4 linked regions of the Homo sapiens genome follow. The protein of the gene in region 4 interacts with the protein of the main gene of each other region in a pairwise test. Each region holds a gene or a part of one and is shown on either strand. Other genes may lie near its edges. The genes, in order: BCL2L15, INPP5A, TRIM3 and TEAD2.

What was found.
Region 1: the proteins of TEAD2 (region 4) and BCL2L15 interact in binary tests that used the Homo sapiens proteins (3 or more experiments, as listed by UniProt).
Region 2: the proteins of TEAD2 (region 4) and INPP5A interact in binary tests that used the Homo sapiens proteins (3 or more experiments, as listed by UniProt).
Region 3: the proteins of TEAD2 (region 4) and TRIM3 interact in binary tests that used the Homo sapiens proteins (3 or more experiments, as listed by UniProt).

The regions. Positions count from the first base shown.
Region 1 is NC_000001.11:113,884,581-113,891,808, forward strand, and holds the start of BCL2L15 (bcl-2-like protein 15), read right to left. Parts: upstream 3,002-7,228; 5' UTR 2,796-3,001; coding exon 2,669-2,795; intron 2,079-2,668; coding exon 1,957-2,078; intron 1-1,956.
Region 2 is NC_000010.11:132,533,317-132,540,795, reverse strand, and holds the start of INPP5A (inositol polyphosphate-5-phosphatase A), read right to left. Parts: upstream 3,010-7,479; 5' UTR 2,700-3,009; coding exon 2,625-2,699; intron 1-2,624. UniProt on the Homo sapiens protein: Phosphatase that specifically hydrolyzes the 5-phosphate of inositol 1,4,5-trisphosphate to inositol 1,4-bisphosphate, and inositol 1,3,4,5-tetrasphosphate to inositol 1,3,4-trisphosphate. Plays a crucial role in the survival of cerebellar Purkinje cells.
Region 3 is NC_000011.10:6,449,921-6,456,948, forward strand, and holds part of TRIM3 (tripartite motif-containing protein 3), read right to left. Parts: coding exon 6,377-7,028; intron 6,256-6,376; coding exon 6,152-6,255; intron 2,203-6,151; coding exon of another isoform or gene 1,954-2,202; exon of another isoform or gene 1,519-1,953; coding exon 1,351-1,518; intron 1,141-1,350; coding exon 972-1,140; intron 702-971; coding exon 631-701; intron 1-630.
Region 4 is NC_000019.10:49,340,095-49,345,444, forward strand, and holds the end of TEAD2 (transcriptional enhancer factor TEF-4), read right to left. Parts: intron 3,305-5,350; coding exon 3,137-3,304; intron 2,497-3,136; coding exon 2,344-2,496; intron 1,344-2,343; coding exon 1,230-1,343; 3' UTR 501-1,229; downstream 1-500. UniProt on the Homo sapiens protein: Transcription factor which plays a key role in the Hippo signaling pathway, a pathway involved in organ size control and tumor suppression by restricting proliferation and promoting apoptosis.

The sequences.
Region 1 (7,228 bases), on a different chromosome or scaffold from region 4:
CATTACAGAATGTTCTTGTTTGAGGGAAGTATAAAAGTATTAGGGGTTGATGAAATATGTCAACTCCTTACTGTCAAATGATTCAAGAGAGAAATTATTTGTACTATCCTTGCAACCTTTCCCTGAGTTTAGGGCTGTTTCAAAATATATTTTTTTTTATTAAAACAAGTTCAAGTCAAATTATTTATTTATTTATTTATGTTTTTTTTTTGGAGACAGAGTCTTGCTCTGTCGCCCAGATTGGAGTACAATGGCACCATCTCGGCTCACTGCAAACTCCCCCTCCCTGTCAAGCAATTCTCCTGTCTCAGCCTCCCAGGTAGCTAGGATTACAGTTGTGTGCCACCATGCCTGGCTAATTTTTGTATTTGTATTTATTTATTTATTTTGAGAGAGGGTCTCGCTCTGTTGCCCAGGTTGGAGTGCAGTGGCGAGATCTCAGTTCACTGCAACCTCCTTCTGCCTCCTGGGTTCAAGCAATTCTCCTACCTCAGCCTCCCGAGTAGCTGGGATTACAGGTGTGTGCCACCATGCCCAACTAATTTTTGTATTATTAGTAGAGATGGGGTTTCACTATGTTGGCCAGGCTGGTCTCAAACTCCTGGCCTCAAGCAGTCCGCCCCTCTCGGCCTCCCAAAGTGCTGGGATTACAGGCATGAGCCACAGCACCCAGCCAAAAAAAAAAATATGTTTAATGAGAAAAAAAGTCAACTCAGCTATCAACTACCTAGGACAGCCTCAGGGCAAGCAACTGGGAGTAACAGGTCCAGCTCTGCCTGAACATAGTGTAGGCACACTGCCCAAGCTGTGTATAGTAGGACGAATAAAGCATAACGGTTAAGAGGGTGGTTCTTTTTTTGAGACAGAGTCTTGCTCTGTCGCCAAGGCTGGAGAACAGTGGTGTGATCTTGGCTCGCTGCAACCTCCACCTCCCGGGTTCAAGCGATTCTCCTGCCTCAGTCTCTCAAGTAGCTGGGATTACAGGCATGGGCCATCACACCCAGCTAAGTTTTGTATTTTTGGTAGAGACAGGGATTCTCCATGTTGGCCAGGCTGGTGTTGAACTCCTCACATCAAGTGATCCGCCCGGCTAATTTTTGTATTTTTAGGTAGAGACGGGGTTTCACCATTTTGGCCATGCTGGTCTGGAACTCCTGACCTCAGGTGATCCGCCCAGATGGGCCAGGCGCGGTGGCTCACCCCTGTAGTCCCAGGTACTTGGGAGGCTGAGGCAGGAGAATTGCTTGAACCCGGTGGGTGGAGGTTGCAGTGAGCCGAGATCGCGCCACTGCACTCCAGCCTGGGTGTGACAGAGTGAGACTCCATCTCAAAAAAAAAAAGCATAGGCTGGGTGTGGTAGCTCACGCCTATAATCCCAGCACTTTGGGAGGCCGAGGTGAGTGGATCACCTGAGCTTAGGCATTCAAGACCAGCCCGGGCAACATGGCAAAAACCCATCTTTACTAAAAATAAAAAAATAAAAAAAATAGATGGGCATGGTAGCACTTGCCTGAAGTCCCAGCTACTCAGGAGGCTGCAGTGGGAGGATCGCTTGAGCCCAGGAGGTGGAGGCTGCAGTGAGCTGAGATCACACCACTGCACTTGAGCCTGGGTGACACAGTAAGACCCTGTCTGAAAAAAAAAAAAAAAAAAAAGATACTATACTTTGCCAAGAATAAAGTGTTATAAATGTGCTCTGTGCACACTAAGCACAACAGCTGTGATGAAGACCAAGTAGAGACAAACTGAAGGTTCATCAGCCTATGCCCAAAATTTTCCATCTCTGTACCACTTAGGTTTTAGCAATTGGAGAATTCTTGCTATACTTCCTTGAAATATAAGCACCCAAATATTTTCATAGAACATTCCTAGTCACTGTAGTATGGGAGTAGTAAGAAAAGGAAGTTTGAAATAGAAAAAAAAGCAGCAAACAATAGCATGAAGTAGAAACTTGACCTGTCCCTTAATGGTTTCTGCAATGACGTTTTTGGCAGAAGCTTCCAATTCTCCGTTGAACTGGTCACCCAACATCCGAAGGCGACCAGCAATGATAGCCACATCAAAAGAACAAGGCTCTCCTATGACAGAGGGAACACATTTGTTACAATGCTTGAAGCAATGGCAAGTCCCAGGAATCTGGGCAATGAGAAAAATTTGTCTTGTCTTTTAAATAATTTTCATATCATGATCTCCCAAGAGCTTAAATGTTCTGTCAACACCAATAGTCAGAAAGTTTCCCTTCATTGAGAACCTCTTTCGCTTTAGGTGTTACTGAAAGCTTAGAGTTTGCCTTTTGAAACTTAAAGGAAATAAATAAAATATACTGTTTTTTTTTTTTTGAGACCGAGTCTCTGTCGCCCAGACTGGAGTGCAGTGGCGTGATCTCAGCTCACTGCAACCTCCGCCTCCCAGGTTCAAGCAATTCTCATGCCTCAGTCTCCCATGTAGCTGGGACTGCAGGCATGAGCCACCACACCTGGCTAATTTTTCTACTTTTAGTAGAGATGGGGTTTCACCACGTTGGCCAGGCGGATCTCAAACCCCTGACTTCAGGTGATCCACCCACCTTGGCCTCCCAAAGTGCTGGGATTACGGGAATCAGTCACTGCGCCCGGCTGAAAACATACTCTTATTGACCTGCAATCACCGCCTAGGGCAGGAACCTTACCTGAATCTACTTCATCTACACAGCATAGGTTCCGGCTGGCAACCTGCAATGTTGGGCTCAAGAAGTCCATGAGTAGAGTGTTCACAATGCATTCCGTTTGTTCCTCAAAAGTTTGGGAGCTCTTCATTTTAGATGTTTGCTGTCAAGTTTTGCTTTTCCACGAAACAAGCAGTTTTCAGCCCAGCAGGAAGTTAAAAACACTGGTAAATCAACAAATGTTTCTACCTCTTGTAGTTTCCTGACATGTAATCCTGGAACTTTTCCCACTAGCTTTCTTCAAACACAGCTGCTCAGAAAGGTGGGACTTCTCAGAAGGATTACCTACTTGGAACTGGGGAGACTTTAAAGACTTTAGGTTCTCTATCTCAGACCACACCCTAACCACATAAAATTAATGCTTAACTTTTATCGTTAGGTAGCCAACCTAGAACTGAAATAGAGTTCAGGAAGAGCCTCTGGAGTAATTTTATTAAGAAATACTTCCTCGACTTCTTAGGTCCTGCACATGGTATAATTTGAAGGAAGGTTTTGAAGTTACAGTGGACCAGCGTTCAACTTCTGTTTATGGAATTTATTTGCCATAATCATATAATAATTACTTACTGAACAAGGAACTATAGTTGGCACTACAAGTAACATAGAAAAATGATACAGGCACAGTTACTGTGCTCATGAAGCTTACACTTCAGCAGAAATGACAGATATTAAATGAGTAATCGCATTGTTATTTGTGCTATTGAGATCAGTGCACTTTGATCAGTGAAGTGTAACAGGGAATCAAGCCTTTGATCAGTTTAATAGGGAAACAAACCTAGGGGACTGGGAAGGCTTCCTTAAAATAGTACCATCTGACATGAGCTCTGAGGAATAAGTAGGCATTCATTATGCAAAAAGGAGGCATAACACTATTCTAGGCGGAGAGGTAGCAGATATAAAGTCTGGGAAGGTTAAAAAAAAACAACTTGGAATTATAAATGGGGACAACAGAAAATATTTCATAGATAAATTATGAGGATTAAATAAGATAACATGCGGAATGGCCTAGCACTGTTTGGCATACAATAAATGTTAAATGTCCTCCTTTTAGCCCAAGACATAATGACCAGGAGGAAAGAGATCTGAGATTCTCTGTCTAGCAAAAGGATTTTCCTAACAGGGTTGGACTCCATCATTGTTTTAAGAGATCTCATGATTGGACACTTATCTGTAGTGGTTGCCTTCTTAACGTAGCTAAACCTAGATTTTGGGTCTGGGTCTCAGAAGCAGCCATCAAACCTATCAGCAAACTTACCACTCAACCTGTCTGACCTGGTGAAGTTATTAATATTAACAGCTCCAACTAATAAAAGAGTCAAGCATAGGCCGGGCATGGTGGCTCATACCTGTAATCCCAGCACTTTTGGGAGGCTGAGGCGGGCAGATAACCGGAGGTCAGGAGTTCACGACCAGCCTGGCCAACATGGCAAAACCCATCTCTACTAAAAAATACAAAAATGAACTGGGCGTGGTGGTGCATGCCTGTAATCCCAGCTACTAAGGAGGCTGAGGCATGAGAATCGCTTGAACCTGGGAGGCGGAGGTTGCGATGAGTCGATATTACGCCACTGCACTCCAGCCTGGGTGACAGAGCAAGACTCTGTCTCCAAAAAAAAAAAAAACAAAAAAAGATTCAAGCATAAACAGTAAGTCAGTTGTTCAGAATGGAATTTCTATCTTGCAAAATATCAAAGCCAATCTTGTGTTTTCTGTTCCATTCTAAAACACATACAACCACTGCACACCTATTAAAATGGCCAAAATCCAGAACACTGGCAAAACCAAATGCTGGTGAGGATGTGGGTCAGGAACTGTCATTCATTGCTGGTAGGAATGCAAAATGGTACAGCCACTTTGGAAGAGTTTAGCAGTTTCTCACAAAACTAAACATCCTCTTACCATATGATTTAGCAATTATACTCCTTGGTATCTACCCAAAGGAGCTGAAAACTTATCTACACAAAAACTTGCACATGGTTGTTTATAGCAGCTTTATTCATAACTGCCCAAACTTGGAAGCAACCAATATGTCCTTCAGTAGGTAAATGAATAAATAAACTGTGATACATACAGACAATAGACATTATTTAGTGCTAAAAAGAAATGAGCTGGCTGGGCGCGGTGGCTCACGCCTGTAATTCCAGCTACTCAGGAGGCTGAGGCAGGAGAATTGCTTGAACCTGGGAGGCGGAGTTTGCAGTGAGCTGAGAGGGCACCATGGCACTCCAACCTGGGTGACAGAGCAAGACTGTGTCTCAAAAAAAAAGATCAGGCCATGAAAAGATGAGGAGGAATTTGGGTGGTAATTGGACTTTGGGTAATAATTGATGAGGTAAGTTCATCAGTTACAACAAATTGTACCACTTTGATTGAGGATGTTGATAACAGAGAAGACTATGCTTGTGTTGGGGCAGAGGGTATATGGGAAATCTCTGTACCTTTGTTTCAATTTTGCTTTGAACCTAAAACTGCTCTTAAAAAGTCTTAATTTTTAAAAATGATCATAAATTGCTTTTGGAGTAAGAACACAAATTATGTTCCCATGTAGCTAAAGTGCTATTTTCATTTGTCATTATCTGTCGCTCATTCTCTCTAGAGGCAAAAGGGCTGAAACCTCATTATTACTAAGTAGGCTTCAGACTTTTAACATCAGAAGGGCGGGCACTCAGAGAAAATTCTAGGCTAACCTCCTTTCACATTAGAGCTAGCCACTGACAGTTGAAGGATTCTAAAAAATACATTTGTGACATACTCCCAAAACAATATATAAAAAATAAAAATATTTATGAGACCATCCAGCTGGTATTAAATAGCTTGCCCAAGTTCACACATCAGTAAGTGGCAGAATATAAATTTTAAACCAAGTCTGTCTTACATTAAACTCAAGCTTTTCCCACAGTAATAAACCACGTTCCTCATTTCACTATCAATACGCTTATGCCATCTTTGAAATCGAATTTTGAGTCCAGGGGTGGTAGCACGCACCTATAGTCCCAGCTACTCAGGAGGCTGAAGCAGGAGGATCACTTGAGCCCAGATCAAGGCTTCACTGAGCCATGATCACACCACTGCACTCCAGCCTGGATGACAAAATGAGACTCTGTCTCAAAAAAAAAAAAAAAAAAAAAAATCTAATTTCAACTCCTTTGCATTGTCTTGTATAATCAATGTTGTAAAGCTATAGAAACAGAGTACAGGCTGTCATTAGCAATGTGGAGTAAATTTTTTCCAAGTTTGTTTACTTCTTCTGGGCCTTCAATATAGCACCCTCCAAAACTATCCCTTTCCCTCAGCCCACATACCTTCACCCTTGCAGTTGTAATATTGTGCTCTTAATTATTACTGAAAAATCACGAGGCCAGAATTTTTTCACCGTCACTTGTTTCTCTTGCCACCCTCTGACCACAACAAATTACATCCCTCCCCAAAATGCTTTGTCTCATATCATTGGCTTAAAGTCCAGGATCTTGTCATCTGTACCAGATGTGCATGTGGATGAAGATCCTTGAGTGTAACTCCTCTCAACATGGAGACTTGTAACTAAGAAAACAAGTAATGTGTCCCCTCTCCCCTAAACATCCCATATCTAAGAAAGGAATAGAATACTTTTAACAGAACGCCTGTTCAAAAATAGGGGTAATGGAAACACATCACAGTCACTGATTCATAACTATAAAATGATGGTAATATGCAAATTATTGCCTCTGCAGTGTTCCAAAACACTATTGTCTTTGTGGAACCTCATTACATACGTAACATACTGTTTACCTGTCAACTAAGAATGACATTAGATGGCTGCTGTTCTAAGAGCACAGTATAGACTACCTTCATGGATTGTAAAATATAAACATCTACTTATATCACATCATCAAACCCCATGTCTGCAGAAGCTATACAGAGTTCCTAGCAGGGGAAATATTAAAGAATTAACTTCATAGTATACCTGAGCTTTAGTCATTTTGCTTATAAATTAGTAAAACCAGGCTACAGGAGAAATCAGTTCTTCATTGAGATAATCTTAAAAGTATATTTTCCAAAAGCAACAATTTCATATTCTATGTATTCCTCTTACATTATAGAAAAGCAACCAAGTAGAACATAGTCTTCTAAAAGCTCCAATAGTTGGGATCACTTTAGTATTATTATTTATTCAGTTGCTTAGTCATACCTAATTTTCTTTAGATCAACATTTCAGTTATAGTCTTTAATTTTAAAAAGTCAATAAGTTTACTCAATTTCTACCACCTGCATCCTGTTCCCTTGCTACGCCTTTTTTTTTTTTTTTTTTTTTTGAGATGGAGTCTCACTCCGCCACCTGGGCTGGAGTGCAGTGGCACAATCTCGGCTCACTGCAGCCTCCGCCTCCCAAGTTCAAGCGATTCTCCTGCCTCAGCCTCTCGAGTAGCTGGGATTACAGGTACCCGCCACTACACCCAGCTAATTCTTTGTATTTTTAGTGGAGACGGGGTTTCACCATGTTGGCCGGCTGGTCTCAAACTCCTCAACTTGTGATCCACCCGCCTC
Region 2 (7,479 bases), on a different chromosome or scaffold from region 4:
GACTGGGCGAGAAAGATTCCTTCACAGCCTGAGCACTGCCTGCAGGGTGCGTTCGTCAGCACGGGACGGGCTGCACAAAGGCAAACAGAATCTCAAAGCAGGTCCCCTGAAATCCAGGACAAACCAAGAAACCAAAACTTCCTTCACTCATGAATTTCCTTCCACCGGCCAGGCTTCTGGCCCACAAGTACCACACCCCAAACCTCAACCAAGGAAGGGGGCCTGGGAATGTGAGTGCCTGGCTGGTTTCCACTGAAGGAGACTGGGTCTGGCCCCCGGGGACTGAGCTGCACACATTAAGAAATCTTCAGACACGGACAGATAAGTTTCCACTCAGCCCTGAAATCACAATGCACCTTTCAGAATTAACCTATGTACTGTTGACCTAAACAAATGTTCCTTCTAAACATAAACATAATGCAAAATTCCACATAGCCTTTAAGAAAAATGAAAATTCAGAGAGAATAGGTTGCTAAACAAAAGTGAATTAAGTTACCCAATTTAATATCAACAGAGATAAATACGTGTATACAATTGAAACACAACAAAAATGCTAGAACTCAGAATCAAAGATTACTGGAAAGAATGTCTGCACAGTAAAACTCGTTTCCCTTTGAGACTAAAATGCCCCAGCAAGCTTAATGCTCCTGACATTTCTGAGGCTTTGAAGCCGCAGCTAACGGATCTGAATCATCTGAACAAAACCATGCTATAGTGACATGTTACTGGAAAGCCTAGAATAGAACGCCAAATATACAGACACACACCCATGCCAGGCACTTTTGTAGAAAATGATCAAACATAAACCTAGATGAAGTTGTTAATAATAAAGTGTGAGGAAAACCAGTTCCTCCCCAGCAGGTCAGTATAATACATGGGCACCTGGAAGTTAAAATAAGAAAAACAGAAAAACAGCGCCTTTTGTTAATAAAAACCAAACCTAGCCTGTGCATGAACTGAGCTTCATCAAACACTTCACCCATGCTTGCTGCCAGCAAAGACACAAGACCTCCTCCTGAAATGGAAACCACGCGTGCATCAGTGGCACACATCCGTCATAAAGCTGGTGCGGTGCCCCACTGTTCACCTAGGGAGGGAGGGAGGGAGGGAGGGAGCGTCCGTGGCTCCACGGCCTCCATCTGGGCCACTTGGAGCCTCACTCTGCTTTATTTGGGTTGGCAGCAGGAGTACCAACAGCAGGGTGGCACCGTGGCTGAAACGCCAAACTAGGTCAGACCGGCCTGCCTCTGGGGAGCTCCCAGTGCGCCCTGGGCCTCAGCTCCCTGGTCTCTCCAGAGATGGGGGCACCCTGGGATCCTGGGTGGGAATGAGGCTTGGGTGGGAGGGGCCCTAGAAGGTAAAGGCCATAGGCAGTCAGCATCCCCTTTCTGGCCCTGAAGAGCTTCTCAGCATCTTTTTCTTCAATAAACAAGAAATATAAAGTCCTACAGTGCTTTACAGACTTCCCTTATTTACGAACTAAAGAGATACTAAGTGGCAGGGTTAAATGGGGGCACCCTACCCTCTGGCCCTGCAGGGACAGACAGACAGTGAGGCCGGCACCCAGGCATCCAGGAGCTGGGGCTGACAGCCAGAGTGGAGGGCCTAGGCTCAGAGGACAGGGGCCAGGGGTGGGAGTCAAGGGTTAGGGTTTGGGAATTCTGCAGGCTCAAGGCCCAGGCTTTAAGACCAGGATTCAGGATTCAGGATTCAGGGGCAGGAGCTTGTTGGAGGAAGGGGCCAAGGATGGGATCTAGGAACCAGAGTTAGGGGCAGGGTCCAGAATTGGGTTTGGGGCCTGATTCTGGAACCAGGGTTCCAGGTTCAGGGGTCAAGGACAAGTGTTCAGGGCCATAAGCTGGGGCCTGAGGTTGAAATTCAGGGTTCAGAGTCAGGCTAGATTGGCTTTAGAGGCAAAGGGCCACAGTATGAAGGCTGGGATTCTAGGGCTAGAATTCAGTGATTGGGGAACAGGGACAGGAGGTTGGGGCCACAGCCCTGTGTCAGAAGTTCCTGGGTTAGGGTTTGTGGTTATGTTTCAGGGTTTGGGGTCCAGGGCTCAGGGACCAGAGACAGACGTTTGAGAGCAGGTTCTGTAACCAGAGTTCTGCAGTCAGGATTTGTGGTTCCAGTGACCATGGACCTGGGGTTCAGGGCCAGGGTTGGGGATGGGCATTCCAGGGCCAGGGTTCTGAGGATTCGGAAATCAGGGCTGGGGCTGGGTTTGGTGCGCACAGACCCGGTTTCTGGGGTTTGGGTTCCAGGAACTGTTAACAGGGGTTCTGACAGGGTTTTAATATTGGAGTTTCGAGGTCAGGATTTGCAGACAGGAGTTCAGAGGCAGGGTCCCAGGGTCAACGGTCAGCTGCTGGAGTCTGGAGGATGGGGTTCGGGGATTCAGGGCCCAGGTCTTCAGGTCTCGGGCTTGGGGATCAAGACAGGGGTCTGGGCTCCCAGACTTGGGAATCAGGACAGGAGTCTGGGGTCCCGGGTACAGGGATCAGAGTCTGGGGCCTCTGGGTCTGGAGGTTCACGGTCCAGGGTCCAAGGCTTGCAGTTCGGGACCCCGGGGTCAGGGTCGGGGGTTCCGGGCTTGGGGCCTGCCGCCGGCACGGGGGACTTACGTCGTCGAAGAGCGAGCCCACGTTGGCCGTGACCAGCAGCACCGCGGTGCCCGGGGCGGCCGCCTTCCCCGCCATGGTGCCCGGGCGGCGCGGGCGCTGGGCTGGGCGGCGGCGGCGGCGGCCGCTTCCTCCGGGACCGGCCGGCCGGGGTCTTCGCGGGGCCGCGGGGCGTCAGCTGCGCCGGGGGGCGGCCCCGGGGCGCATCGCGGGCTCGGCGGGTCGGCCGGGCCTGGCCGGGGCTCCGGCCTCGCGCTCGCTCGCTCGCTCGCTGCTCCGCGGCCCCGCGCCCGTCGCTCGCCGCCGCGCCTCACAGCGGCCCGCGCGCAGCCATTAGATCCGCTGGGAAAGTTCCCGCAGCCGCCGCCGACTCAGGCTGAGGGCAAGTCCCGCCCCGCGGAGCCGAGCCCGGGGCGGGGCCTGGGCGGGGCGGAGCCTGACTCGGGGTGGGGCCTGTGCGGGGTGGAGCCGGGCCTGGGGCGGAGCCTTGCTGGGGGCGGAGCCTTGAGGTGCGGAGCCTGAGTTGGGCCTAGATCTGAACAGAGTGGGGCGGGGCCTGCGGGGGGCGTGGCTTGTGCGGGACTTGGTGTCCTTGTGGAGGCGGGGCCTGCCCCGGGGCGGGGCCTCCTTTCGGGGCGGGGCCTACGCGGGGCGCTCTTGCGACCGGCGGCCTAGTACTGGTCGCTCCCGGAGGGCGCTCCTGTCAGTCAGGCCCGCAAGAACGCCGCGCCCCCGCCCCGCCCCCCGCGCCGCGGCTGCGCACAGACTCCGCCCTTCGCACTTCTATGACGTCACGGCCCTGCTCCGGCGGCGCCTCTTAAAGGGGCCCTGGGTTCCGGGCGCCGGCGGCGGGTGCGCTCTCTTGCGGCTCTGAGGGGATGTTCCAGCCCCCGCGCGGCCGCAGTCGTCCAGCCGCGTGCCGGGCGTGCGGGGGAGGGGAGCCCACCGGGGCGGCGGCAGTCGCGCCTGCAGGGGCCGGGCCACGCGCGCCCGGCTCTCCGCGCAGACGGAGCGTGGACCGTGCAGCTTCCCGGCGCGTCCACCCGGCTCCCTGGCCGCGACCTCACTCACGAGGAGCGGCTGCGGCCCAGAGAAGACGGAGGGGAGGCGGCGTGAGGCCAGGCGCATCCTGACGTCGCGGAGGGCTCCGGCCCGGGCCAGGCTGGGTCTCAGCGCGGGGCGTGCAGGGAACCCTCGCAGGGACGAAGGGGGCTCCAGGGGAGGGGGCTGGTGCGGGCCCAGGAGCGCAGAGCACGGAGGAGCAGCCGGCTCGGCGCGGGCCCCGGGGCAGCGATGCTGATCCTGGCCGCCGGAGGGGCCAGAGCATGGGCTGGACCCTGGGTCTGAGGCCGCGGGGACACAGCCGCCGTGAACCGGGACATGCCTGTAGATGGAGGAGGAGAACCACATTTGTCATCTTAAAGCTTCCAGTAGCTACATTTTTTAAAGGTAACAAGTAATAGCCAAAGTTAACAATACGTTTTACTTAACCCAATAGATAGATACATCATTCAACATGTAACCAGAATTTAACAACCTCAGTGAGATTCCTTCACAGGAAGGCTTTGCACGGGCACCTGCCTCTTGGCAGCAGCTCACAAGGCCGCTTCCAGTGCTCAGCAGCCCTGTGTGGCCAGTGGCCACCATGCGGAGCAGGCACTCCGGAGGATTTTGTGGACACAGATTTAGGGGCGGTCAGGGCCTGGCAATGGGCTCTAGCGAGGCTAGCCTCCAGCTTCTGAGTAAACCGCCAAGGCAATGCCCAATGACATCAAAAGGGGCTTGTTCTGTTCTAGGAAGACACCTGCTGCCAGGGCGGGGCGGCAGGAATGGTGCTGCAGGCTCGGGCCCCAGGCCTGTGCTGAGGCCGCATCACTGGCTTGTGTTAACACCCCCAGGGTTCCTCCTTACGGCCACCGCTGAGCAGGACTCCAGCAAAATCCATTTGATGTATAAACCAATGTCTACTTTAGTCAGTAGGTGCCTGCTACAGACTGAATTCCGCCCGCCCCACCCCACCCCACCCCGCAAATTCATGGGTTGAAGCCCTAACCTCCAATGTGACTGTATTCGGAGGTGGGCTAGCGGGGGTAATTAATGTTAAGTCGTGCAGTAGGGCTGGTGTTTAATGTTAAGTCGTGCAATAGGGCTAGTGTTTAATAGAAAGGGCTCAGTGCTGTCCCCACCCTTACATGTGCAAAAGAAGTGGCAGTGTGAGTGCACAGTGGGAAGCTTCACCCCAGCCAGCCACAAACCCTGCACCAGAAATCCAACGCTGCTGGAACTTGATCTTGGATTTCCAGCCCCCAGAACTGTGAGAAGTAAAAGTCTTGTTTCAGCCTCCCAGCCTGTGATATTTCGCTACAGCAGCTGAAGCTGACTGATGTAGTCGCTTATTTTTCTTTTTAACAAAATCAGCACATGCTAAGGGTACCCTTAGTAGAAACCAAATGTGGGGGTGTCACTGATCCCTGGAACGTGCTTTCTGAGAAGGGACATTGCCTCCTCACTTCTCCCCGCAGGCTGTGCCCTCACACCCGGCTGAGGCAGCGTCCCCCACCCCTTGTGCCCTCCCTGCTCCCCCCTCCTCCTCTCCTCGCCAGCCAGCTCCTGCCATGCCTGGACGTTGGCCTCTGCCCTTCCTCCAGGCAGCCACCTCCTCTTTCCCATGCACCCCTCACCCACCACAGGTTCAGCCCCTCACAGTTCTCCTGCCTCCTATATTCCGTGCTCATTACCAGAACCTCCAGAACCCAAGGGGGTGCGGCCTGGACCTCCCACTTCTGCATCCACGGCCCTGGGCATAGCCTGGATGTTCTCATCACCAATGACCACACCAAGGCCGAATCCAGGCACCTTGCCCTCCCCACCACCTCCTCTCCTTTGGTTTCACTTCCGTGGGACCTCATGGAAACCTACAGCCCATGCTGCTCCCATGCCTTCGTTAGCCACCGCCACACGTGCACACCCACACAGAAACACATGCACACGCATGCACTTGCACGCACACACATCTGCACATGCGCATGCACGAACATGCACACGTGCACACATGACCACGCATGTGCACACCTCTTCTTCCTGCCTTACTCTGCTTCTCTCTGAGGGTAGAATCACTTTGTGTACCCACTCCCTCCCCTCTCCCTGCCCCCCAGCACTCACCCAGCTGGCCCCCAGGACTGATTTACTTGCTTACAGTGAACCTGCGCCCAAATTAGAGAAAACTAAATTGGGGGAAAAACTAGACAACACCTTATTTCCATGCCCCTGGCATCTCCCAGGTCTCAGGCACACCCACGTTGAGCACTAGGCCTCCTGGCTCTGCGCATGTGCACTCCACCACTCCAAGAGGCCACTGCAGCCTTCCCCTTCTCTAACCACCAACTACGCTCCCTGGAGGAAACGTTTGCCCTTTGTTGAGGAAGGATTTGCAGTCTGGGATTTTCCCACTGTCACCCTAAATAACAGAGAGAGGCTCTCTAAAAGAAAATGAGATTTACTCGGGAACATTCATTGCAATAGAATATGTGTGCCATCGTAAATTGGGTGTGGGTCAAGGAAGGTAAAGGAAGACAAAGATTTTCAAAGGAAACAGGAGGATTACATCATTGTTTTGAATCAATGATCCTTGGCTACAAGGATCTCCAGGAAGGATGGTGCCAGTCTGAGGCTGGACAGGCAGCTACTGGGCAGATGTCTTCCCAGAAGTGTTTGTGTGTGTAAGTTGTGATGGTCTTTGTGCACGGCTGTGATTTTTGCAGTCTTTTGTGATTGTTCTTGCTATCAAGCATGTCTGCATAAGAACCCTCCCTTCATGCCCTTCCACAGTCTATATGTCAGGGTTTTTAATACCAGTGACTCCATTTGGATTCTGACTGTGATCACGCCACTAAGTCAACACATCCAGCATCTGGTGTCTGTCCTGCACATCCTCCATGCTGCTACATGGAATGAGGTGCCTGTCCCCGCCCAAGGCCACCCCCTCCTGGGTCACGTCGGCAGTTCACAAGCATGCTGCGGTCTCTCAGATCTCTGGAAGCCTCCAGCCTGTGCCCCTCCATTTTCCTCCCCCCTCTCTGCTCTCCTTGCTGCAAACCTTGTCCTAAAAGTCTGCCCATCTCTGCCCCGCATGCCAATGGACCACTCTTGTCCAGGCCCTCGAATTGTGCTTCTCATGCCCACACCCCATGGGGCATCCTAATTCAAGGGCCAGCCCCCCAGGCCTGATTGCAGCTGACCTTCCAATACGGTTGACCACTGGCTGCCTCTTGGAAGTGAGCCTTGCCCTGGCATCTGTGGCATTCCTGCTCTTCCCTCCCAACTGCGCTGACCACCCCCAGTCTCCTCTGCTGGCTCCCTTCATGCTCACCTGAGTTCTGGGGCCCTGGGGTCCTGGGTGTGCCCTTCCTGTGTTCACTTTCTCCCGGCTGACCTGGCTGGGCCCTCACCTTAGATCATATCAGCATGCCGACCGCTGCATGGGCATGGCAGACCTGTCACTGTGCCCGGGGCCTGGCTCTCCTATGTTCAGAAAGACATTGGCCACTTGTGTCACCTGTGTTAAAAGCCACACTCATGAAACCAGGTGAGAGGGAGGATGCCTCTCCCTTGTGTGCCCTTCTTCACCCTTGAAATATTGCCCCGTGTATTTGCTCCTTTGCCAAAATAATAATAATAACGAGTTTCCTAAAGACCTACTTACCTGGCTTAAGGAGATCCTGGGCCCACCTAGTCTGCAAGGAGCAGAGAGGGAGATGGGGAGCAGAGCCTGCCCGATTTTCCTCCTCCTACCATGGATGAATTCCTCAGCAGCTGCCAACCCTCTTCAACCTGGTCAGCCACTTGGCCCAAAGCTCTT
Region 3 (7,028 bases), on a different chromosome or scaffold from region 4:
GCCTGAGTGATCTAAGACACACAGGACTGCATCACTCCCCTGCCTGCAATCCTGTGACTCCCCATAGCTCTTGGGAGGAGAGCAAGCCCCTTAAGGGGGCACACAAGCCTCACTCTCAGCTTTCACGGTCCCCTCCTCAAGCTGAGTCTGAACTACTTGTGATTTCTCGAACACACTATTAAGGTTCCCACCTTGCATTCTTGGCTCTTCCTGTGTCTTTTGTCTCAAACACTCTCGTCCTCCTCTGCCTTCCATTTAATTCCCACTTGTGCTTGAGGTCCTCCTCATATAGTCTTTCCTGAATCATACACTTCTGTATCCCTTCCCACAGTTCCCTGCACCTTCCTATCACAGAATCTATTACATCATATTGTAATTTTTTGGTTACCTTTTTCTCTTCCCTACTAGACTATAATCAAGAAGACACAGAATACATTTGCTTTGTGCATCACTGTATCTCCAGCTTCTAGCATACTGCCTGGGACAAAGCAGCCATGCATAAATGTGTAAATGTGTATTGTTTGAGTGAATGATCTCAAAGGGGAAAAGGAGGAGGTAAAATAGAGAGGAGTCTTGTGGAAGAGGAAAGGATGTTGGGACAGTGGTCACGGAGGGAGGGAAGACACTGACCTTCACTGAATGGTTATGGAAGTCCGTTACTACAATTTCATTCTTGTTGTTCACAGCCACAAAATGGGGCCCTGAAAATACAAAGTGGTCTTCAGGGCAGTAAGCTGGGATGCTGAGTGGGATGGGGAAGAGTATCTGGGAAGATAAAAGCTAGGGTGTTAGGAGAGGGGTGGGGTCTCCAGGACTGAGACAAATTATTTCTGAGATGATAGGGCTAACGTAAGGGAAGTGGGATCTCCAGAGCCAAGATATAGGAGGAGAGGGCCTTTACAGCTGGGGTATCTAGGGGAGTTCTCTGGAACAGGGGTATCAGCATAGATCTTGGAGCTGTCCCCCTATACCTGCAAAGTGGCGGTCAGTGGCCCCACGGCCCCCAAAACGGCCAACCAGTTTGCCATTGGGCTGGAAGGTAAAGACGCAGCAAGACTTGTTGTCGACCACAATGATATGTCCATTCCGGTCTACGGCCACTCCCTTGGGGCCCATGAGGCGGCCAGCTCCAATCTTGGTCTGGAGGAAGAGAATATCCATAAGAGGCTTTATTCTGACAGTGGGGAAAGTAGTCCTAACCCAGTACCAAAGCAGAATCTTGGGCTGGGGAAAGAACAGGGAGTAGGAGGAGGTAGGATTGGATCAGTCCAGACCCTGACCACCAAGAGGCACTAGACTGGTCAGTTCAGCTGGACACCAGGGTAAGTAAAGTGACAGCAGGCCTCTCACCTTGAACTTGCCCTCAGGGGAGAAGATGCTGACCCAACGGTTGTCATAGTCTGCCACAATTATGTCTCCATTGGTGTCCACTGCCACACCTGTGGGGCGCTGCAGCTGCCCAGGTGAGCGTCCTCGGACCCCAAAACGGAACTTGAACTGGCCCTCATTGGAGAAAACCTGGAGCAGAGGAGCAAGGGGAGGGAGCAGGTAGGAGGGGAGACACTGTGGGCACAGACAGAAGGGAGTAGGATCCTGAGGGAGGAGACCCCCCCACCACCATTTATTCAGTCATTCAACAAGCACTTACTGACAAAATCAAACATGGCAGCAGGTCTGGGGCAATGCAACAGAGATATGAATGGGATTGTGAGAACATGAAGGGATGAAGGGGAATGGTGAGAAAAGGCTCCAAGAGAAGAAGATGTCTGAACAAATAGCCTAATGAGGATGCCACATAAACCAAATTCGGCCAGGAAAGGAAGAGGAAAGGCATTCAAGCAGAGTGAACAGATTGTAAAAGGCACAAAGTCCAGTATGGGCACCACTTGAGGACTTGTCCAGTGTGGCTGGACTGCAGGGAGCACCCAGGTGAACAAAAGAAGGAATTATGTTTTATCCTGGGTGTAATGAGGAGTTTCTTAACATTTCTAGGCATAGCAGTGACAAGATCAATTTTGCTTTTAAGAAAGAACATTCTGGCTGTAGGGAGAAGTCAAGACTACAAGCTAGCTGCCCAGTCAGAGGCTGTTGCAGTATTCCAGTTGAGAAATGATGATGGCTTGGACCAAGGAAATTGGCTGGAGGGACGCAGATGGACTCAAGACATATGTAGGAGGTAGGCTCATGAGACTTAGTAGCAGACTGGAATGGGGTAGGTGAGAGAGGAGAAAGTATACAAGAATTAGTCCATTCAGGCTATGGGGCTGACAAGGAAACCTTCCTCCTACACAGAGTGAACCTTTCAACCTCTCCCTTCTCCAACCTCCTCTAATTTAGCTGCCCAATATGCTCAGGTCTCCCCATCCCAAAAGCACCTCCTTTAATCCTCCTTCCCACTTTAGCTAAGCTTTCTGGCTTTTCCTTCATAGTCAAAACATTACTCACTACATAAGTCTCATACACTCTGCTTTGTTATAGGCTCTGGGGACACAAGATGAACGAGAGCCAGGAGCAGCCTTGGAGAACTCAAGTTCTGGGCATTGGCCTTGCTCTTGGATTCAAATCTGTGCCTTCCTTAATGGACTGGTCTCCCCGCCCCGGCCCCACCCCAACTCCATCTCTTAGTCCTGCAGGGCTGTTTAAACTGGTCCCACCAACAGGCATCACTTTCTTCTAATGTGGACCTTCTACTAAGCTCTTCTCTGGCTGACCAGCACAGCTCTTGGGTTCTGCAGTGGTCCCCTGTGGCAGGACAGCACTCATCAGTATGAGAAGGGAGATACCATGAGCTCCACGAGCTAAATAGTAGAAGTGAGGGGGCACTAAAAGGTACAGTTTAGCGGTGAGGTAATGCCCCTCCAGTTTGAGCAGCTCAGGTTCTGGCTCAATACTGATGAGGCTTTGGGATGTCTTGTTCTTCCAGTCCCAGCCTATCCCACCCCTGACACCTGGCCAACTCTTACTCATCTTTCCATTCTTAGAATTTCCAGGTCACTTTTTCAGAGAAGACTAATGACCAAGTACCACCCTCCGCCCTACCAAATCAATATGCACATATAAACTTAGGTCACCAGGATATATGCTTTACAGCTCTCTTCATAACAATTATCACTTTGCAGCTAAATAACTGTTAAATATCGGTGTCCCCTTCTAAGGATGTAAGCCTCGCATGGCATAAGGACTGCATCTGTTTTGTTTGCTGCTGCACTTGCAGCACTGATATGGCATTTGGCACATAGTAGGCATTCAACAAATGAATGAACTCCCCAGCTCAATCTCAGACCTGAACTGGACATCTCCACTTGAATGCCGCATAGCTATCTCAAACATCTGCAAAAGTGAATTCATCAACTTAAACCTGGGCCTGCTCCTGAATGGCAACACCATCTACCCAGTCCACAAAGTCCTGCCATTCTTGACATTTGACGATTTAGCAAAATCTGCCATTCTTGCTTCCTTAATATCTCTAGAATCTGCTGGTGTCCTAGTTTGGTCCTTAACATCTCTCTCCTATACCATGGTATCTGAAAGTAGATCCCTGACTTCAGGGATCTCACAGTCTAGTGGGGGAGAAAGACTTAAACCAAAATAAAACAAAACAAAACCAGACAAAAACAAAAACAAACCAGTGATTCCAGTAAAGTATGAAAAGTACTATAGCAAAAGGCTGAGGGAACTGAGAAGAATGTGATTTAACATTCTGCCTAAGGGAATGAGGGAGTTTTCACAGAAGAGCTGATAAAACTGGAAGCTTAGACAATTACACAAGGACATAATATATACAAATCAAATTATTAATTCAGAATCACAAAATGTTTTTTGTCTTCTGTCAACTGATGCTGGTTCCACTCAGTGAGGTCTGCCTCATCCTCCACCATAGAAGTGTCCAAAAGAGAAAACGGTCATGTCGTGAGGACCCCAATCCCCATGTACTGAGAGGAGGAGGGGGATCAGACCTCATCAGGGAGCCCAGCCCATGCCAGCCCTAAGGACTCCAGAGTAAGAGAAGCAGAAATTCAACTTAGAAATCTGAGCCAGGCTCCTAGCAGTGGCGACATAGAGGGCAGGTGGAAGTAGAAGCAAGAGGAGGACTGCTATAGAAGTAGCAGGTGTTTGGAAGAGAGTGGAGCTATACCAGGTGTTCCCTCTCAATTCCCCACTCTGAAACAATGGGGAGGCCAGGTGCAGTGGCTCATGCCTGTAATCCCAGCACTTTCAGAGGCCAAGGCAGGAGGATAGCTTGAGCCTAGGAGTTCCAGACCAGCCCAAACAATATAGTGAAACCCCGTCTTTACTAAAAATAAAAATAAAATAAAATAAATTAGCCAGGTATAGTGGCATGCGCCTGTAGTCCCAGCTACTCGGGAGGCTGAAGTAGGAGGATTGCTTGAGCACAGGAGGTCAAGGCTGCAGTGAGCTGTGATCATAGCACTGTACTCCAGCCTGGACAACAGAGACCCTGTCTCAAAAAAAAAAAAAAAAACTATGAGGAAGTTCAGCCCCCTCACCAGGACAGACAAAGTGGCACTTGTTTTTCTGTGCATGTGAGCAGTGAGCACACCTGTGTGTGTGCACAACAGAGAAGGGGTCCCAAATCTCAACTTTTATGCCAGGAAGCATTCCCAGCCTAGGGAGTTGGAAAGGAGCTGGAAGGTGTAACTGAGTAGGGAACTGAGCACCACCTCATTACTCCCCCGCAATCCCCTCCTCACTATCCAGGCTGGGCCCAAATGCCTTCCTGTGCTGCACAGGGCCTCTCCATTCCTCTGCTCTTAGAAATAGGGTAGGAGTAAAGGACGACTGGACAGAACTGGGAATATGGCCACAGAAGAGTCCCTTGCACTTTTAGACTGTTAGGTGAAAAGCAGGGGTCAGAGAGTAGCCGTCACTGAGGGAAAGGACCTTAGCAGAGCTGGATCGATGACATGAGTACTCAAGCAGGGTCAGGAAGTTTAAACGTATAGGTGTTTAGAAGTAAGGATCTTCAGCGAAAAGTTTTGCTACCCAGTAAAATGTTTCGAAGAAGTAAAGTGCATGGTAGTTAGAAACAATCCCCTATAGGATAAAATCAAAATTCCACACTCCATCTCCAAAACCAATTACAATCTGACCTCAGCTACCCCTGGCTTCTAATAGTAATCTACCTCCAGGCCTGCTGGGCTCCTTCCAGTTCCCTGAACCACCTCCTCCAGCACTTTCCCACCTGCTTGCCTTTGTTTACAGCCTCCACCTGGACGATGATATTTTTAACAATAGCTAACATCAGAAGTTTCACTAGATGTCAAGTATAGTACATCATTTAACACTCCCCGCAACCCTATCAGATATACTTTTCCTAATTTTACACATGAGTTAACTGAAGCTCAAAGAGGTCATGTGACTTGTTAGTATGTGACAGAGCTAGGATTCAAGCTCAGGTGTCTGGTTTCAGAGCCTGAGCTTTTAACTGCTCTGCTGTGTCAACTACCCTGGTGCCCACTGTACTAGGCTCTGAGCTTTTACTACAAGAAACAGAGGGAAAAAAAGGCACATTTCCTGGCTTTGAAAAGGAGCTCACAGTGCAGCAGAAACCATGTTCATTCAGTGCGGTTGATGCCATAATCAGGTGTATGAGGTTATGGGAGAGGCAGTGGGAGGACCACCTGCTACAACTTCTAGCCACTGAAAGATACCCCCTTTGGCCAAGATACCCCTATGCAACTGTCTAGCCAACCTGATAACTGCAGAGACTCCAGACAGACTACATACATTCAGGAGCCAGGCATGCATGTTGGAAGACACGGAGGGCAGGCCACCAGGAGAAAAAGGGAGAAAGTAAGAGGCTCAAGGAGAGGCAGAAGGAAAGGAGGAATGAGCCAGATCTTTGCAGTCCAGGAGCTGACCTGCCCTAAGCCATGGCCTACAAAGTAGAGGCTACAAGCATAGTAAACTCTGGTTTCTGACTGAAGGTGCTGGTTACAGTTGTGGCCTATGGGAATGGGGTGGCTGGTGGGTGCGTAAGGGGTGATCCTTTGATTCACTGCTCTTAAGGAACGGTACTATCTGTAGGGTTCCATCTTCCAGGAGGTGACCTGTACATTCTATCTTTTCAGTAGCCTGTAGCTTGAAAACTCTTATTTTGGTGGTGGAGGAGAGCGGTAAAGGTGCTTACCTGAATACACTGGTTGTTGCTGTCTGCTACCACGATGCGGCCGCTGCTGGCTGCGGACACACCTTGTAAATTGGTGAATTCACCTTTCTCCCTTCCACGACTGCCTGTGGGAAGGGACAGGAGGGAAAACAAAATAATTCATTCAGAGGTCATCTTGAACCTCCCTTCCCTCCCCACCCACTACCTGAGCCTGGCCCATCTGGCTCTGCCCTCGGCTGTCTGTACCAACACGGAAGACGAGCTCATCCTCAATTGGGTTGTCCTTTCGTTTGCCGCCTGTGCTGTACATGGAGCTGGGCCTACGCACTGCCTTCTGGCGCACATGGCTGCCGGGGCCGCCAGGGGACTTGACACGGCGCTTCACATCGTCCGGGGAAGGTGGCAGGTCCCCCGGACGCAGGGCACGCACGCGGAAGGGGCTGCCGCGCACTGGCTGTCCGTAGAGCAGCACCGAGAGGAGCAGCTCGCCTTCCGTGCGCGCTGTGTACACTAGCTCATATGTGCCATTCTTGTGGTCCACCACTGGCACCGGAAGGCGCGTGCCGTCCGGGCCGGTGATCTCTGCACGCAGCTCAGCGCTGCCTGTGCGCACCAACCGCCCGTCCTTGTCTTTGGTAGTGACAGTGAGCGAGGCAGGCTGGCCCACTAGCGCCTGGCGCAGGCCCTCTCCCGTGGCCACCGTTTCGTGTGCAGTGGCGCTCGTGGTGAGCAGTGCGCCCAGATTGAGCACCGATCGCCGCAGACCGTCCACCTCAAGGACCAGTTCCAGCTGTGCATTCTCATGTGGCCGCTCCGGGAAGGCCTGTGCCGCCAATGCAGCCAGCCGCTCTCGCATGTGCTTGCGCACCAGCAACACCTCCGGGGCCGAGCCCAGGCG
Region 4 (5,350 bases):
TCCCGTCGAGCCCCGCCCTTTTCTACCTATCCCCTTCTCCAGCCCCTTCCCGCCCAATTCACGGCCCCACCCCTGACCTTTCTCGCCCGGGTGGGCATCACCCCCGTCTCGCCAGCACCCCTTCGACTTCTCTGACCTCATCTCCTTTCTCTATAGCTCGGGTTCATGACGCTCTCGATATTCCTGTGCAGAAACCTGGACCACGTCTACAACCGGCTCGCTCGATACCGTTAGGCCCCGCCCTCCCCAAAGTCCCGCCCCGCCCCCGTCACGTGCGCTGGGCACTTCCCTGCTGCCTGTAAATATTTGTTTAATCCCCAGTTCGCCTGGAGCCCTCCGCCTTCACATTCCCCTGGGGACCCACGTGGCTGCGTGCCCCTGCTGCTGTCACCTCTCCCACGGGACCTGGGGCTTTCGTCCACAGCTTCCTGTCCCCATCTGTCGGCCTACCACCACCCACAAGATTATTTTTCACCCAAACCTCAAATAAATCCCCTGCGTTTTTGGTAAAATAGCTTTATCCTCTGTCAGAACACAAACAAACAAACTTTGAGAGGGGAGGAAGGAAACCGTCTAGCTCAGGGCTCACTTAGGAGAGGGATGAGATTAGAAAGTTCAACACACTGCTTGTGCAGCGGAGATAAAGTCAAGACCCTAGCACCCACTTATAAATATCTCGTTATATTAAAAAAAAAAAAAATGTCCAGGGCCCACCTGGCTCTGCTCCTGCACAGAAAGGGTTCATCTTCACTTTGTGATCTCACAGGTCATGGAGTGAGGGTGGTAGAGAGGGGCAGAAATTTCAGGGGGAGGGGTGGCTGGGAAAAAGTAAAGGGGACAAGCCAATGTGTAACTAGCGCTCTCCAAGACATGCAGAGGAGTGGGGGTGGCCTGTCAGGGGCTGAAAAGAAAAGCCAGTGCTGTACCTGGGGGGTTGTCTCACTCCTGTCCCCACAATCCCTGATACTCCGGAGTGATCTGTCCTTTCAGACACCCACTGTGAGGTCCCAATATCGGGGTTTATCCTTTCCTCAGTCCCAGCCTGTTCAGCTCTCCAACCAAGTTTTGGGGGCCCCTCTAATGGGGGGGATGGCCCCAGTTGCTTAGGCCTCTGAGGTCAACCCCTTTACATCACAGCCCTCTCCCCAAATAAGAAGCATGAGGTGAGCTGGAGGACCCTCCCTGGGAGGAGGGTGTTCTGGGGGGTGAGCCAGTTTTGGGGTCCCCCTTCAGTCCCTGACCAGGCGGTAAATGTGATGCTGGGCCCCACGCTCGCTGGTGGAGACCTCGAAGACATAGGCGGTGCAGAGCAGCAGTTCCTGGGTGTCTCTGTTTGTCACCACCTGCCAGGAAGGCCAGGACAAGGGACTTATGCTTAGAAGGGAGGGCAGGGACCCCTGTGCCCCCCTGCCAAGCTATCATGGAATACCCAGCAGGCTCTTTTCCATCTCCAGGAAACAGGCCGCCACCATATCATGTTCCCCAGGAGAAAGGGATGCCCAAAAGTCAGTTCCCTGGGCAATGGGGGTTACCCCTCAGCTGAGCGTTGGCAGTTATGGTGTATCACATCTCAGGGTTAATCGGGTTCCCATCACATCACATTCCCTGGGTAAAAGGGGTCCCCATCATGTCACAAGTAAAGGGAGAACCCTCCCTGCAGGTTCCGCGGTCAAGGGGTCTCTGCCTCAGCAGTCCAAAAAGTTAAAGGGGCTCCCACCATATCATGTTCCTTGACAAGCTGAGGATCTGCCTTCGAGTGCCCTCCAGTCAGCTTCACCAGGGAAGGAGGGACCCACCTTATGTGCGAGTGCTGTGGGGCTGGGCGTGGTGGCTCACACCTGTAATCCCAGCACTTTGGGAGGCCTAGGCAGGTGGATCACTTGAGGTCGGAGATCAAGACCAACCTGGCCAACATGGTGAAACCCCATCTCTACTAAAAATACAAAAATTAGCCAGGCGTGGTGGGGCGTGCCTGTAATCCCAGCTACTCGGGAGGCTGAGGCAGGAGAATCACTTGAACCCGGGAGGCAGAGGTTGCAGTGAGCCGAGATCTTGCCACTGCACTCCAGCCTGGGCGACAGAGCGAGACTCCATCTCAAAAAAAAAAAGAGAGAGAGTGCTGTGACATCCCCACCCTGGGTGAAGGGTCCCCTAAACTAAGGGTCAATGGTGGGGTCCCCGCTGCATCAGTTTCCTAGTTAAAAGAGCCTCAGGCTGAGGGCTCACTTTGGAGTCCCTGCTGTGTCAGTTCCTGGGTGAGGAGATCCCCTAGACTGAGGGTCTGTTATAGGTACTGTCCCTCCACACTGGGGGGCCCCACTCCAGCCCAGCCCCAGGCATCACCTGGAGGATGGTGAAGTTTTCCAGGACGCTGTTCATCATGTATCGCTCAGGCAGCTGCCGCAACTTGTGCAAGAAATTCACCAGGTACTCGCACATGGGCGAGCGCAGCAGGCGGTACACAAATCTGCCGTCCTCCAGCTGGGCCCGTTCCGTCTGAACCAAGGGGAAGGGAGTTGGGAAAATGGTGGCTGAGAGACCCACGGGTCACCCCAGGAATTGAGCTCCACCCTGTGCCTCTAAGATGCCACCACACTCACTCTCACTGCCACCTTCCTTTCATCACCCCACCCACAGTGACTGGAGACTGGGCCTGAACCCTCGGAGATCCGAATCAGGATCTCTGAGCCTGCAAATCACAAGCCCCTCAAAGTGATTCTCTGAACCCCCAAAGACCTCTGGACTCCTCTAACCTCCCAGCCCTCAGATACCCTCCAAAGACCCCTCCATGACGTCTTCAAACTCTGACTTCTAAACTTGAGACTTCCCCAAGTCTCCAGCAACTGTAAGTGTGACTTCTGAACCTTCTTGCCCTAAGAACCTCTCCATATCCATAAGACCCTTCTCAATCTCAGTGACTCTAAGTCTCTATACTACACATTACCTGTCAGCCCGCAGAATGATCCCTGCCTGTGACTTCTGAACTGCCCATTAGCTCCCAACGCATGCATTAAACCCTCAAAGAGGCTGGGACCCACTCCCTCCATGCATACTCCCAAATGCCTGAGTCATGATGGCTTCTGGTCCATTCTGCACCCCCAAGTGCTGACCCAGAGCTCCACCCCTCCAGCCTCACCTCCACCTTCTCCACCACCTGCTTGCCAAAAGAGCAGACCTTGGAGGAACAGGTGAGGGTCATGTGTTCCAGGCTCTCATACTGGCTGCTCACTCCGTAGAAGCCACCACTGCTGATGCTGCCACCGGCCCCTGCCTCCTCACCACTTGGGCCCCAGTTCAGGTCCGCCTGGGAGATGGGAAGGCACAGATGAGTCAGAGGGGACATCCCTTATAAACAGTGGGGACTACCAGGCGCAGTGGTTCACACCTGTAATCCCAGTACTTTGGGAGGCCGAGGCGGGCGGATCACCTGAGGTTGGGAGTTCAAGACCAGCCTGACCAACATGGAGAAACCCCATCTCTACTAAAAATACAAAATTAGCCGGGCGTGGTGGTGCATGCTTGTAATCCCAGCTACTGGGACACTGACGCAGGAGAATCACTTGAACCCGGGAGGCAGAGGTTGCGGTGAGCCGAGATCATACCATTGCACTCCAGCCTGAGCAACGAGAGCGAAACTCCATCTTAAAAAAAAAAAAAACACAGTGGGGACTCTGCCCCATAGCCTACCATTACCCCTGCAGTTCCCGGCTTGATTCTTCAGTGTTGTTTTGTTTTTTTGTTGTTTGTTTGTCTTTTTTTTTGGGGGGGGGGGAACAGGGTCTTGCTCCGTCACCCAGGCAATGTGTGGTGGTACAATCACAGCTCACTGCAGCCTCGACCTCCTGAGCTCAAGTGATCCTCCCATCTCAGCCTCCTGAGTAGCTAGGACCACAGGTGCATGCCACCACATCCAGCTAATATTTTGTATTTTTTGTAGAAACAGGGTTTCACCATGTTGCCCAGGCTGGTCTCCAACTCCTGGGCTCAAGCGATCCTCCCACCTTGGCCTCCGAAAGTGCTGGGATTACAGGCATGAGCCACCGCGTCAGGCTTTCAAAGTTCTCCAAGGGCTGGTTTCTGGAGAAGATCCACCGTCCATCAGCGTTGAAGAAGTCTGGGTCCCCAAAACAGTCTTGGCCCTGTCTCCCCAGTAACCAAAGGAGCCCTGGAATTCAATTTCAACCTTTTTTCTTTTCTTTTTTTTTTTTCTGAGATGAAGTCTCGCTCTTGTTGCCCAGTGCAATGCCGCGATCTTGACTCACTGCAACCTCTGCCTCCCGGGTTCAAGCGATTCTCCTGCCTCAGCCTCCCAAGTGGCTGGGATTACAGGCGCACGCCACCATGTCTGGCTAATTTTTGTATTTTTAGTAGAGACAGGGTTTTGTCATGTTGGCCAGGTTGGTCTCAAACTCCTGAACTCAGGTGATCCACCCACCTAGGCCTCCCAAAGTGCTGAGATTACAGGCATGAGCCACTGTGTCCAGCCAATTCAACCTTTTTCCCTTGAAGCCCGCAACTCAAGAGTTCAGCCCCTTCCAAGGGCCTGGTTACTATGGCAGTTACTTCTTAGCAACCAGTTCAAGATGAATACCTCCCTCTAAGCCCCTCTCACTCTGGTTGCTAAGGCAAGTGGCTACTCCCTAGCAACGGGACCTCACGGAGCCTGAGGAGGCCTGACTCCTCCTCAGAGCACTTCCCCCTCGGCCAAATCTGAGAGGTCAGACTCCCTCCATGACCCCAGTGGCCAAGTGTGTGTAGACAGCTGGCCAAGTGTCACTAGGCCAAGTGGGGCCTAAGGAAGCCTAAGAGCTCATCACACCTTTGGTCTGAGTCACCTCCTTGCGAGGCGCACCTCTTCCTCTTCCTAACTTTAGTTGCTAACACTGTGCCAGGTCCGTCTTCTCAGGGGCCCGACTCCATCTCTCACCGTGGCAAAACCAAAGACCTTACCAGCTGCTCCTCTGAACCCCTTCAGCAGCTGGGCTTCCTAAGGGGGTGGCTCTCCAGTCCTGGGACCTGATAAGGCCTGTCTTAAGCCCCAACAATGTCTAAGCCCTCAGCTGCACATCCCCAGAGCAGTTTCAGGCTTCTGCTTCACATGGCAGAAAGCTCCAGAACCGTGAACAGCAAGCTCCAGAACAACAACACTCCCAGCAAGAACAGTAAAGTTCAGGCCCTCAGCAGGCCTTTCCTTCCTTTCCTTCCTTCCTTCCTTCTTTCTTTCCTTCTTTCTTTTCTTTCCTTTCTTTCCTTCTTCCTTTCTTCCTTTCTTTCTTTCGGCAGGGTCTCATTCTGTCACCCAGGCTGGAGGGCAGTGGCACAATCTTGGCTCACTGCAGCCTCCACCTCC